2 separate regions of the Homo sapiens genome follow, and region 2 is linked to region 1. The links come from fine-mapping of genetic effects on gene expression. A gene starts in region 1. The other region holds a variant in brackets. All regions are shown on one strand. Distances are from middle to middle. Region 1 holds the start of LINC00892 (long intergenic non-protein coding RNA 892). Region 2 overlaps ARHGEF6 (Rac/Cdc42 guanine nucleotide exchange factor 6).

Region 1 (5,386 bases):
GTCTTCTAGTTGGTTATGTTTATTCTGGCACTCCAATGGCTCAGGAAGAGTAACATAGGAGGGGCGTGGGGATAATCACCTCCAGCATAGATGAGTGTGGTTGGGAATGGGGATGTTGGGTGTCTTGATCTGGTTTCTGGTATTAGTTTTCATAGTGTGCCCAGAATCCTCACTCTCCCTTTCTACCAGATGCCTACCTCCATCCCAGGTCCCCAAGGTGAGCTTTCTTGGCACATATCCACTCCAGAGTTGTATCCTAGAGGCAGGATTGTGTCCCCTCGCCACTGCCACACACTCCCCACCCCAAACACAGCAGGAGAGTCATGCTTTGAAGGGAATTCTGGAAGAAATTTCTAGTCATAAGTGGGCTCTTGGGTGCTATTGTAACCCTTGTATGACTCTAACACCTATTGCTGTGAGTTTAGCCAAACAAACAAACAACAACAAAAAAAACAAACCCATAAGTTCCCCACAGCATCTCTCTATATATTCCAAAAGGTTCTCCCATTGATGTTTCCTATGGCAAGACTGTCCGAGGGGCCTTGTGGCTAACACCGAGTAGTCAATATCCTTTCAATAAGTATTTTCCCAGCATTTGGCAAGCACTAGGCTCTCTGATAGGTCTGGGAATCCAAAATGAAAAAGACAGAGCTGCTAGTTAAGGAGATACAAAAGCCAGAGTGGACCACAGTGCACTGGGTAAGCATCCACAGTAGAGAAGTGCAGGGGATTTTGGGAGCATGCAGAAGGAGTGAGGGTGAAGAGGTGACAGACTCAGGGAAGACTTCCTGGAAGAGGAAGCCCTGAAGGAATTTTCTGGGTCAGGAAAGAATACATTCCAGGTACAGGAACTAGCATGTGGAAGGACCCACAGGCTGGAACTCATGGGCTCGTTCTTCTCTTACGGCTGCAGGCTTGGGATCAAAGCCTTCCTCTGGTCTCTGCACAGCACCTCAGGTTCTCCAGTCAGCCCTTAATGTGGAACATGAAATATCAGGTGTTTATAGAACAAAAAGTTCCCTTTCTTCCACGGTGAAGGGTCTCAGGGATGGCATGCTCTGCAGGTGGGCACATAGTTGGCACCTGTTTTCCTTCAAATATCAGCCTGACATGATTGAACATTTAAGACTTGTCTGTGTGGTTCTAGTCCATTTTTTTAAACCTCCCTTGCTCTAGTCTCAGCCTGCCTTTTTTTTTTTTTTTTTTTTTTGAGACAGAGTCTTGCTGCGTCGCCAGGCTAGAGTGCAATGGCGCGATCTCTGCTCACTGCAATCTCCATCTCCCAGGTTCAAGTGATTCTCATGTCTCAGCCTCCTGAGTAGCTGGGATTACAGGTATGCACACCACGCCTGGCTCATTTTTGTATTTTTAGTAGAGACAGGGTTTCACCACGCTGGCCAGGCTGGTCTGGAACTTCTGGCCTCAAGTGATCTGCCCACCTTGGTCTCCCAAACTGTTGGGATTACAGGCGTGAGCCACCATGCCTGGCCTCAGCCTGCTTTCTGCATCTCCCCTAGAGCTCCAGGACTTTAGTAGGCTAGCTCCTGGCTCCACTGCCCAGAAACCCCTCTCCACAGCCTTTCCCCGCCTACCCTGCAATTTACCTCTACCATGATCCTTCTTCTTGACTTAACTCATTCAGGGCTCTCTCTCTCTCTTTCCAACTTCTAACTGGTGTCCTCCAGGCTGCCCTCTTCAGTTCAGACCACAGGCTTGGGCAATTTCTGTCTCTCTGATTCTTCCTGTGGTCTGTTCCTGACAACCCCTTGGGGGCTGTTTGTGAAATGTGCCCTCTGCTTCTAACTCATCTCTTAGGTATCCTCACAGGAGACTGCCTTCTTAGTGGGGGCCTGACGCAGAAGACCTCTAGTTCTCCCACAGTGTCTTCTGGGGCCAGGCCCGCTGTTTCTCACTGAGGCTCGGAGAAAGGCAATGACTTACCATGGTCATGCAGCATGTTAGCGGCAGAGCTGAGAGTACCCCAGGCCTCCTGACTTCCAGCCCAGTAGTCTTTTCCAGGAATCAAGCTGCCTCTCGGAAGACTCAGGTCTTCTAGCCAGCATCAGCTCCCACCCACTGACTGCACTGTGCACCCATCTCTGTTAGCACTTCCTTCCTGAGCCACTTCATTAAAACTGAAGCTGGCCCGTCCAGGCTTCTGACTCAGCAGCCCAGCAAAGAACATCCAGCCATGTCTGCATCTGATTAAGGAAACGCCAGGGGCAGGAAATATATATATATATATATTTTTTTCCTGGCTGAGTCAAGGGGTGCAAAAGGAGGTGGAGAGATTCAGTAAAATAGTTAAGATTTGAGTAGAAGGTAATCTTTCAGCACAAGATGTACCACAGGGACCACAGGGGTGGAAGAGAAATGGAAGGGCTTTATCAAAAGATTTAGGATTACTAGTTAAATACATTTTGGTACAGAAGTATATTACTGGCTTAGAAGGACCCCTGTGATACACTGATAGTGCAAATATCATGGCAGAAATAGGATGTCCCCAGTTTTTTTTTTTTTTTTTTTTTTTTGACAGAGTTCCACTCTTGTTGCCCAGGCTGGAGTGCAGTGGCATGATCTCGGCTCACTGCAACCTCTGCCTCCTAGGTTCAAGCGATTCTCCGGCCTCAGCCTCCTGAGTAGCTGGGATTACAGGCACCTGCCACCACGCCCAGCTAATTTTTGTACTTTTAGTAGAGACGGGGTTTTGCCATGTTGGCCAGGTTGGTCTTGAACTCCTAACCTCAGGCGATCCGCCTGCCTCGGTCTCCCAAAGTGCTGGGATTACAGGTGTGAGCCACTGCAACCGGCCCAGTTCCAGTTTTGTAAAAATAAGTTGAGAGTGTCCCTAAAGTGCTTATGAGTAGTAGCTAAAAGTTCCCCTCCATGCTCTGCACCCATGTTAATTTTTGCCCACAGGTAGATAATTGGAAAACAATTACCACAACCTTTGATAGCTATTGTGGCACGGGTGTTCCCCTGTGAATAAGTGGAGTTGGGAATCTTTCTTCATCACAGTGCCCCATGGTGAACTGCGCCATCTTGGTAAGCGTGGACCTGGGACAGTTTCCACTAGAGCACTTCCACATATAACTCAATAGCCCGTATCTTTGACATCAGGATGTTTTCTGACTTTGAGGAGAAGGATGTCCTGGTACTCCTTGTCACAGGGTGGCTGATGCCTGGAGCCCTCTCTCTCCCCTGACATCGGGGAACCAACCACATCTGAAGCAGTTTCAAATAAGCAGTAGGGTTGATATCTGTTCTGGGTTGAACAGTGTTCCCCTCCCCAAATTCATGCCCATGTGGCACCTGTGAATGTGACTTTTTTGGGGGGGAAATACTTTGTAAATGTAATTAGTGAAATTAATATAAGGTCAAACTGAATTAAGGTGGGCCCTAATTCAATGACTAGTGATCTTATAAGAAGAGGGAAATTTGAACACAGACAAACACAGAGGGAAAACAGCCATGCAAAAACAGAGGCAGGGATTGGAGAGATGTGTCTACAAGCCGCAGAACATCAAGGATTGCTGGCAACCATTAAAAGCTAGGAAGAAACAAGGAAAGACCCTCCCCTAGATCCTTTAGAGAGAGCATGGCCCTACCAACACCTTCAAGTTCAGACTTCTGGCCTCCAGGACTGTGAAAGAATACATTTCTATCATTTTAAGCTCCCCAGTTTGTGGTAATTTGTTATGGCAGCCCTTGGAAACTAATACAACACTTCTGTAGAAGAAAGTGGCTCCATCTTTTGAAATGCTGCTCCAATCATGACCTGAGCAGAAAGATGTTCATCAGCAGAGGACACACAGTCAAGCGGAGGAACCGCATGGCTCTTTGATTATGCTCTACACTCCTCTACATGTGCACACAGAAACAAGTCTGCAAGGTACCACAAGACTTGTGTCTGGGTGATAGGTTCTGGGGTATCTTTATCTTTTTGCTTTAACTTGTCTATATTTTTGAAGTTTCCCACAATGAATATGTGCTACTTGTGTAAAAAACATGTATCTATAGCTATATCTACCCATCATCTATTTATCTATCTATCTTTAATCATCAGATTTTTGCCATTGAAAGTAATGGTAAAACCACAATTACTTTTGCACCAACCTAATACTTGTATTCTCTATTCTCATGCACTTGCAGAATCCTTCCAAATGAAATAGACCCAGGGTACCTTCATTTCTTGTAGGCCCAAAGCTAGGAACTACTCCCTAAAAGTGGTGGCAAGGATGAGGGTAGACGATAATAAAACCATATGTTTATATGGTATTGGATACTCTTCAAAGAGCACACCTCTGTATCTGTCGACCCATTCAGCCTGATACCCCTCTGATAGATGAGAAATCTGAGGCTCCAAATTCTAACTGTTATCTTCCACGCTGCCCTCTTCAGTTCTGACCCCAGGCTCAGGAAGTTGTTAAGCAGCTCCTCCAAGGTCTCATAGCTAATAACTTAGGGTCTTGATGCCTGGTCCAGCACTGGTTTCTAGAATGTAAGATCCATCCATAAGGGCAGGGCCTTTTTGTCTTTTTTATTCACTGGTGTATCTCCAGCACTTAGAATGGTGCCTGGCATATAGTAGGTGATCAGTAAATTTTCACTGAATGAATGTATATATAATTACAGTGTGATGAAAGCAAGCCCTTCTGGAGAAGTATCTTCTGCCACTAGGAACATTTTTGTTTAGGCCAGGCTGTTGTGCTCTGCAGAAGGTAAGCAGGGCTGCTGAAGGGGTCCTGCTCTCTTTCCAGTCTCTGTCCTTCCACAGCCTGGCCCCCAGCCCCAGGTAAGAGTTAGCTAATTCCTAGAGCTTTGACTCTCACATCATCTACACGGAGGCTTCTATGTAGTGTGGTTCAAGGCAGGACTGGAAAAGGCTCTTTGTCCAAAAATAGTGCCACTCAGCAAAAAGATCCAGGGACAAGGGAAGGGCAGGCCAAGTGATTTGGGACCAGGACAAGGAACAGGACACAGCAAAAAATATTCAGGGAGAAGGTAGTGGAAAGGTGCATGGGACAGTTTAGGAACAGAACAAGAGGGGTGCAGAAAGTGTCCAAAAACAAGTCAGGAAGGAAAATCTTGGTGAAACAAATGGGAAAAAGGAAGGTGGGGGTAGTGCAGGCAGAAAAGTCTTGTCCTCCCCACCCAACCGCTGCCCCGCCCCAGACCAACCCTGGTTCACACACTCTCTCCTCAGGATAACCTCCCACTTCCCTCACACAGGTGACACCTTCCCACCTGGCGGCTGTGTCCAGGTCTTCTAAAGGACAAGCTTTGTACAGAGGGGCAGGCTCCCTCCCCAAGTGTCCTTTTTAAGTGCAAATCCTCCTGGGAAAGCTGCCAGGGAGTAAATTTCCAGGAAGCCCTAAAGCTGCCC
Region 2 (5,386 bases), 64 kb before region 1:
CTGGGCCAGAAAACTGTAGGACAGGCTTAGTGACAGAATTTTACCTTTGAAGTCATATGCTGGAAATCCAGGTGGGACAAAAGCAAGTCCAACATATAGAGACTCTTGACTTAACTTGGAGACTAAGATGCAGAATGGACATGGATTCTGGAAGCTGTTCAAGACTGAAAATAATATTCTCTTAATCTGACCTAGATTTGAGCTCCCAGAGCTAGGCTAGAACATTAGTTGACACGAGCCTCCAGAAATGACAGAAATTTTGGTTCTTGTCCTGGTTTATTAAGGTGCAATATTTATTGGCTTTACAAAGATGTTATGTAAGGACATTTTAAAGGTTGAACGCAGTAAGTCCTGCTTGAAGGTCAATTTTATTCCTCTGATAAATTTTGAACTCTTATGGAATAGCAAATATGGAAATTGGAGTTTAAAGAAAGAGAGGTCATGAACCTGGCATTTTTAGGCAAGTGGCTCAACTGCTTATAGCTAACATTAGCTAGTAATAGCACTGACGATGTGCCAGGCACATGATGTAAAAGCCTATGAGGGAGTTATTATTATTACCATCTCTGCTTTACAGATAAGACATTGGAAGGCTTAGGTTAAGTAATGTGCCCAAGAACTCATAGATCTTAAGTGGTTGAGCCAGAATCCAGGTCTGTCAGACTTCTAAAAAATATTTTTATTAAGACATATATTTTATCCACAGAAAGAATAATGTAAATGCAAATTTAAAGGATCACAATAAAATGAGCACCTGTGTATCTACCACCTGGCTTAAGCAATAGAAAGTTACCCTTTTCTTTTCTCCCTCCCCTCCCCTCCTCTTCCCTTCCTTTTTTTTTTGACAGAGTCTTGCTCTGTCACCGAGGCTGGAGCACAACTGCAACCTCTGCCTCCCAGATTCAAGCGATTCTCCTGCCTCAGCCTCCAGAGTACCTGGGATTACAGGCACGCACCACCACGACCAGCTAATTTTTGTAGAGATGGGGTTTCACCATGTTGGCCAGGCTGATCTCGAACTCCTGACCTCAAATGATCCGCCCACCTTGGCTTCACTTGACGGAGCAAGACTCTGCCTCAGACAAAAAACAAAACAAAAACAAAACAACAACAGCAACAACAACAAAACAAAGTCACTGCACCAATTTATTTTCTCACTATCTGTGTATGAGGGTTTCATTTTCTCCACACCCTCACCAAACATTTGTTATTGTCAGTCTTTTTGATTATAGACATATTAGTGGATATGAAGTGGTTTCTCATGGTGAGATTGATATGCATTTTCCTCAGGAATAATGATATTGAGCATCTGATATGGTTTGGTTCTATGTCCCCACCCAAATCTCATCTTGAATTGTCAACCCTACATGTCGAGGGAGGGACCAGGTGGGAGGTGACTGGATCATGGGGGTGGTTTTCCCCAAGCTGTTCTTATGATAGTGAGTTCTCACGAGATCTGAAGGTTTTATAAGGGGCTCTTCCCCCGTCGCTCTTGCTCTCTTTCCTGCCACCTTGTGAAGGAAGTACTTGCCTTTCCTTCTCCTTCCACCATGATTGTAAGTTTCCTGAGGCCTCCCCAGCCATGTGGAATGGTGAGTCAATTAAACCTCCTTTGTTTATAAATTACCCAGTCTCAGATAGTATCTTTATAGCAGTGTGAAAACGGACTAATACAGCATCTTTCATGTACCTACTGGAAGTTCGTATACCTTCATTCAAAGAAATGTCTATTCAGATCCTTAGCCTGTTTTTAAATTGGGTTATGTGTATTTTTATTGAGATATAATTTATATAACATAAAATTCACGATGTTAAACTACGCAATTCAGTGGTTTTTAATATATTCACAAGGTTGTGTAGCCATCACCACTGTCTAGCTCCAGAACATTTTTATTACTCCCCTCTAAAAACCTGTCCCCAGTAACAGTCACTCATTATTAATGGCTAGTGATGTTGCGCATCTTTTCATCTTGCTTATTGGCTATTTTAATGTCTTCTTTGGGAATATGTCTATTTAAATCTTTTGCTCATTTAAAAAATTCAGTTAGCTATCTTTTCATTGTTGAGTTGCAACAGTTCTTTATATATTCTGGATATTAGATTCTTACCAGATACATGTCTACCTTGGAGATACTGTGGATCCAAACCACTACAGTGAAGTGAATATTGCAATGAAGTGAGTCACATGAACTTTTTGGTTTCCAAATGAATACAAAAGTTATATTTACACTCTACTGTATAGTCTATTAAGTGTGCAATAGCATCATGTCTAAAAAAGCAAGGTACATTCCTTAATTAAAGAATACTTTATTGGCTGGGCGTGGTGGCTCATGCCTGTAATCCCAGCACTTTGGGAGGCCAAGGCGGGCGGATCACCTGAGGTCAGGAGTTTGAGACCAGCCTGACCAACATGGAGAAACCCCATCTCTACTAAAAATACAAAATTAGCTGGGCATGCTTGCACATGGCTGTAATCCCAGCTACTTGGGAGGCTGAAGTAGGAGAATCACTTGAACCTGGGAGGCGGAGGTTGCCGTGAGCCGAGATTGCGCCATTGCACTCCTGCCTGGGCAACAAGAGTGAAACTCCGTCTCAGGAAAAAAAATAAAAAAAGTTTGGAGTATTGTAAGAATTACCAAAATATGACACATAGACACAAAGTGAGTACGCACTTTTGGAAAAATGGCACCGATAGACTTGCTCAACACACGGTTGCCACAAAACTTCAATTTGTAAAAAATGCAATTATCTGTGAAGTTCAATAAAGTACACTGCAATAAAATGAGGTGTGCCTATATATGATTTGAAAAAATATGCTTTCATTTTTTGGGTTGTGTTTTC[G/A]GTTTCTTGATGGTGTTCTCTGAAGCACAAAAATTTTGATTTTACATTTTAATTTTGATGATGTCCAATATGTTGTTTTGTTGTTGTTGCTTGCACTTTTGGTGTTGTATCTAAGAAATTATTGCCTAATCCAGGTCATGTAGATTCATGCCTATTTATTTTCTTAGAGTTTTATAATCTTAGCTTTTATATTTAGGTCTTTAATTAATTTTGAGTTAATTTGTGCATATGGTTCCATTTTATTCTTTTGCATGTGGATATCTAGTTGTCCCAGCACCATTTGTTGATTTCTATTCTTATAAATTGAAGTTGTGTTTTATGGCCCATAACGTGGTCTATCTTGGTGAATGCTCCATGTGAGTGTGAGAAGAAAGTGTGACTGTTGTTGAATGAAATATTCTACAAATGTTAATTAGAACCACTTGACTGATGGTTCTATTCAGTTCAACTGCCTGCTTACTAATTTTCTGCTGCTGGATCTGTCAGTTCCTGATAGAGAGATGTTAAATTCTAACCACAATAGATTTATCTCTCTTTTCAGTTCTATCAATTTTTGTTTCATGTATTTTGATACTCTGTTGTTAGGTGCATTCACATTAAGGATTATTATGTTTTGTGGGAGAATTTGCCCTTTTATCATTGTATATTTTTCCTCTTTATCTCTGATAATTTTCCCTGATCGGAAGTCTGCTTTGTCTGAAATTAATACAGCTAGTCCAGCTTTCTTTCAATTATTGTTAATAGGATATATCCTTCTTCATCTCTTTACTTTTAATTGTCATAGATTAAAATATATGTTGTAGACAAAATATATTTGAGTCTTGTTTCTTAATCCACTCTGACAGTCTCATTCTTTTAATTGGCGTATTTAGAAAATTCACATGTTAAGTGATTATTTATATATTTGGATTAGTATCTGCCATGTTTTCTATTCATTGCAATTGTTCTTTGTTTCTTTTTTACCTCTATTTTTCCGCCTTTTCTGTTTTTAGTAAACATTTTATTTTCACTTTTCTCTTAGCATATAATACTCCCTTTAAAAAATTTTACCAGTATCCCTAGAGTTTATGTTATGTATTTACAGCTAAATCTAACAACACTTTCACATAACACTACACAATTTCATAGGTAACTTATAACAGAATATTCTCAATTCCTCCCTCTTATCCCTTATAATATTATTGTAATTCATTTCACTTTTCTATAAAGTAAAATCACCCAATACACTGTTGCTATTATTACTTTGAACAGTTATCTATTAAATCAATTAAGAATAAGAAAAATGAGGCCGGGTGCGGTGGCTCGCGCCTGTAATCCCAGCACTTTGGGAGGCCGAGGTGGGCGGATCACGAGGTCAGGAGATCGAGACCATCCTGGCTAACACAGCGAAACCCTGTCTCTACTAAAAATACAAAAAATTAGCCGGGCGTGGTGGTGGGCGCCTGTAGTCCCAGCTACTAGGGAGGCTGAGGCAGGAGAATGGCGTGAACCCGGGAGGCGGAGCTTGCAGTGAGCCAAGATGGCGCCACTGCACTCCAGCCTGGGTGACAGAGCGAGACTCCATCTCAAAAAAAAAAAAAAAAAAAAAAAGAAAAATGAAATATTTTGTTTTACCTGGATTTATTATTTTTGATACTTTTTTCCATGTATCCAAGTTTTGTTTGTTGTTTTTAAATCTATATCACTTTCCTTCTCTCTGAAGAACTTCTTTTAACATTTTTGCAAGGCAAGTCATCTGGCCACAATTTCCCACATTTTTTGTTTGTTTGAGAAAGTATTCAGAATTCTAGGTTGTCATTTTTTTCCTTCAACACTTTAAATATTTCATTCCATTCTGTTGTTTGCATGGTTTATAATGAGAAGTCTGATACAATTCTTATCCTTGTTCCTCTACAGGTAAGGTGTTTTTCCCTGTCTGGCTTCTTTCAAGATTTTCTCGTTGCTTTTGCCTTTCTGCAGCTTGAATATGAAATGGCTAGGTGTAGATATGTTTTGCTATATATCCTGCTTGGTGTTCTCTGAGATACCTGGATCAGCAGTTTGGGGTCTGTCAATAATTTTGCAAAATTCTTGGCCTAATAGGGTCAACATTTTAAATATTTCTTCTCTTTTCTCTTTCTTTTCTGTCTATATTCCCATTATGCATGTTACACCTTTTGTACTTGTTCCACAGTTTTTGTGTATTCTCTTCCATTTAAAATTTTTTTCTTTACATTTAAGTTTAGGAAATTTCTATTGACATATCTTGAAGCTCACTGTTTCCTCAGCTATGTTTAGCCTATTTGTTAGACTATCAAAGGCATTCTTCATTTCTGTCACAGTGTTTTTTATTTCAGGCATTTTCTTTTGATCATTTCTTAGTGTTTCTATCACTCTGCTTACATTACCCATCTTTTATTACATGTTGTCTATCTTTATCTGTTAGAACCTTTAACATATTAACCATAGTTATTTTGAATTCCCTAATAATTCCAAAATTTGTGTCATATCTGAGTCTGATTCTAAAGCTTGCTTTGTCTCCTCAGACTGTTTTTTTCTTGCCTTT

What was found. PIP is the estimated chance that this variant, and not a neighbour inherited with it, causes the effect.
Region 2: its variant is fine-mapped to the expression of LINC00892 in whole blood (TOPMed, PIP 0.98).

What each region holds. Positions count from the first base shown.
Region 1 is chrX:136,636,360-136,641,745 of GRCh38, reverse strand. LINC00892 (long intergenic non-protein coding RNA 892) reads right to left here and starts at 2,203. Exons shown (of 3, transcript NR_038462.1): 1 at 1,942-2,203; 2 at 906-972.
Region 2 is chrX:136,700,748-136,706,133 of GRCh38, reverse strand. The region is part of intron 9 of ARHGEF6 (Rac/Cdc42 guanine nucleotide exchange factor 6); the gene reads left to right. Among named protein-coding and RNA genes, the nearest start is that of CD40LG, 55 kb to the right of the region's middle. The variant G/A (reference allele first, on the strand shown) is at 2,842.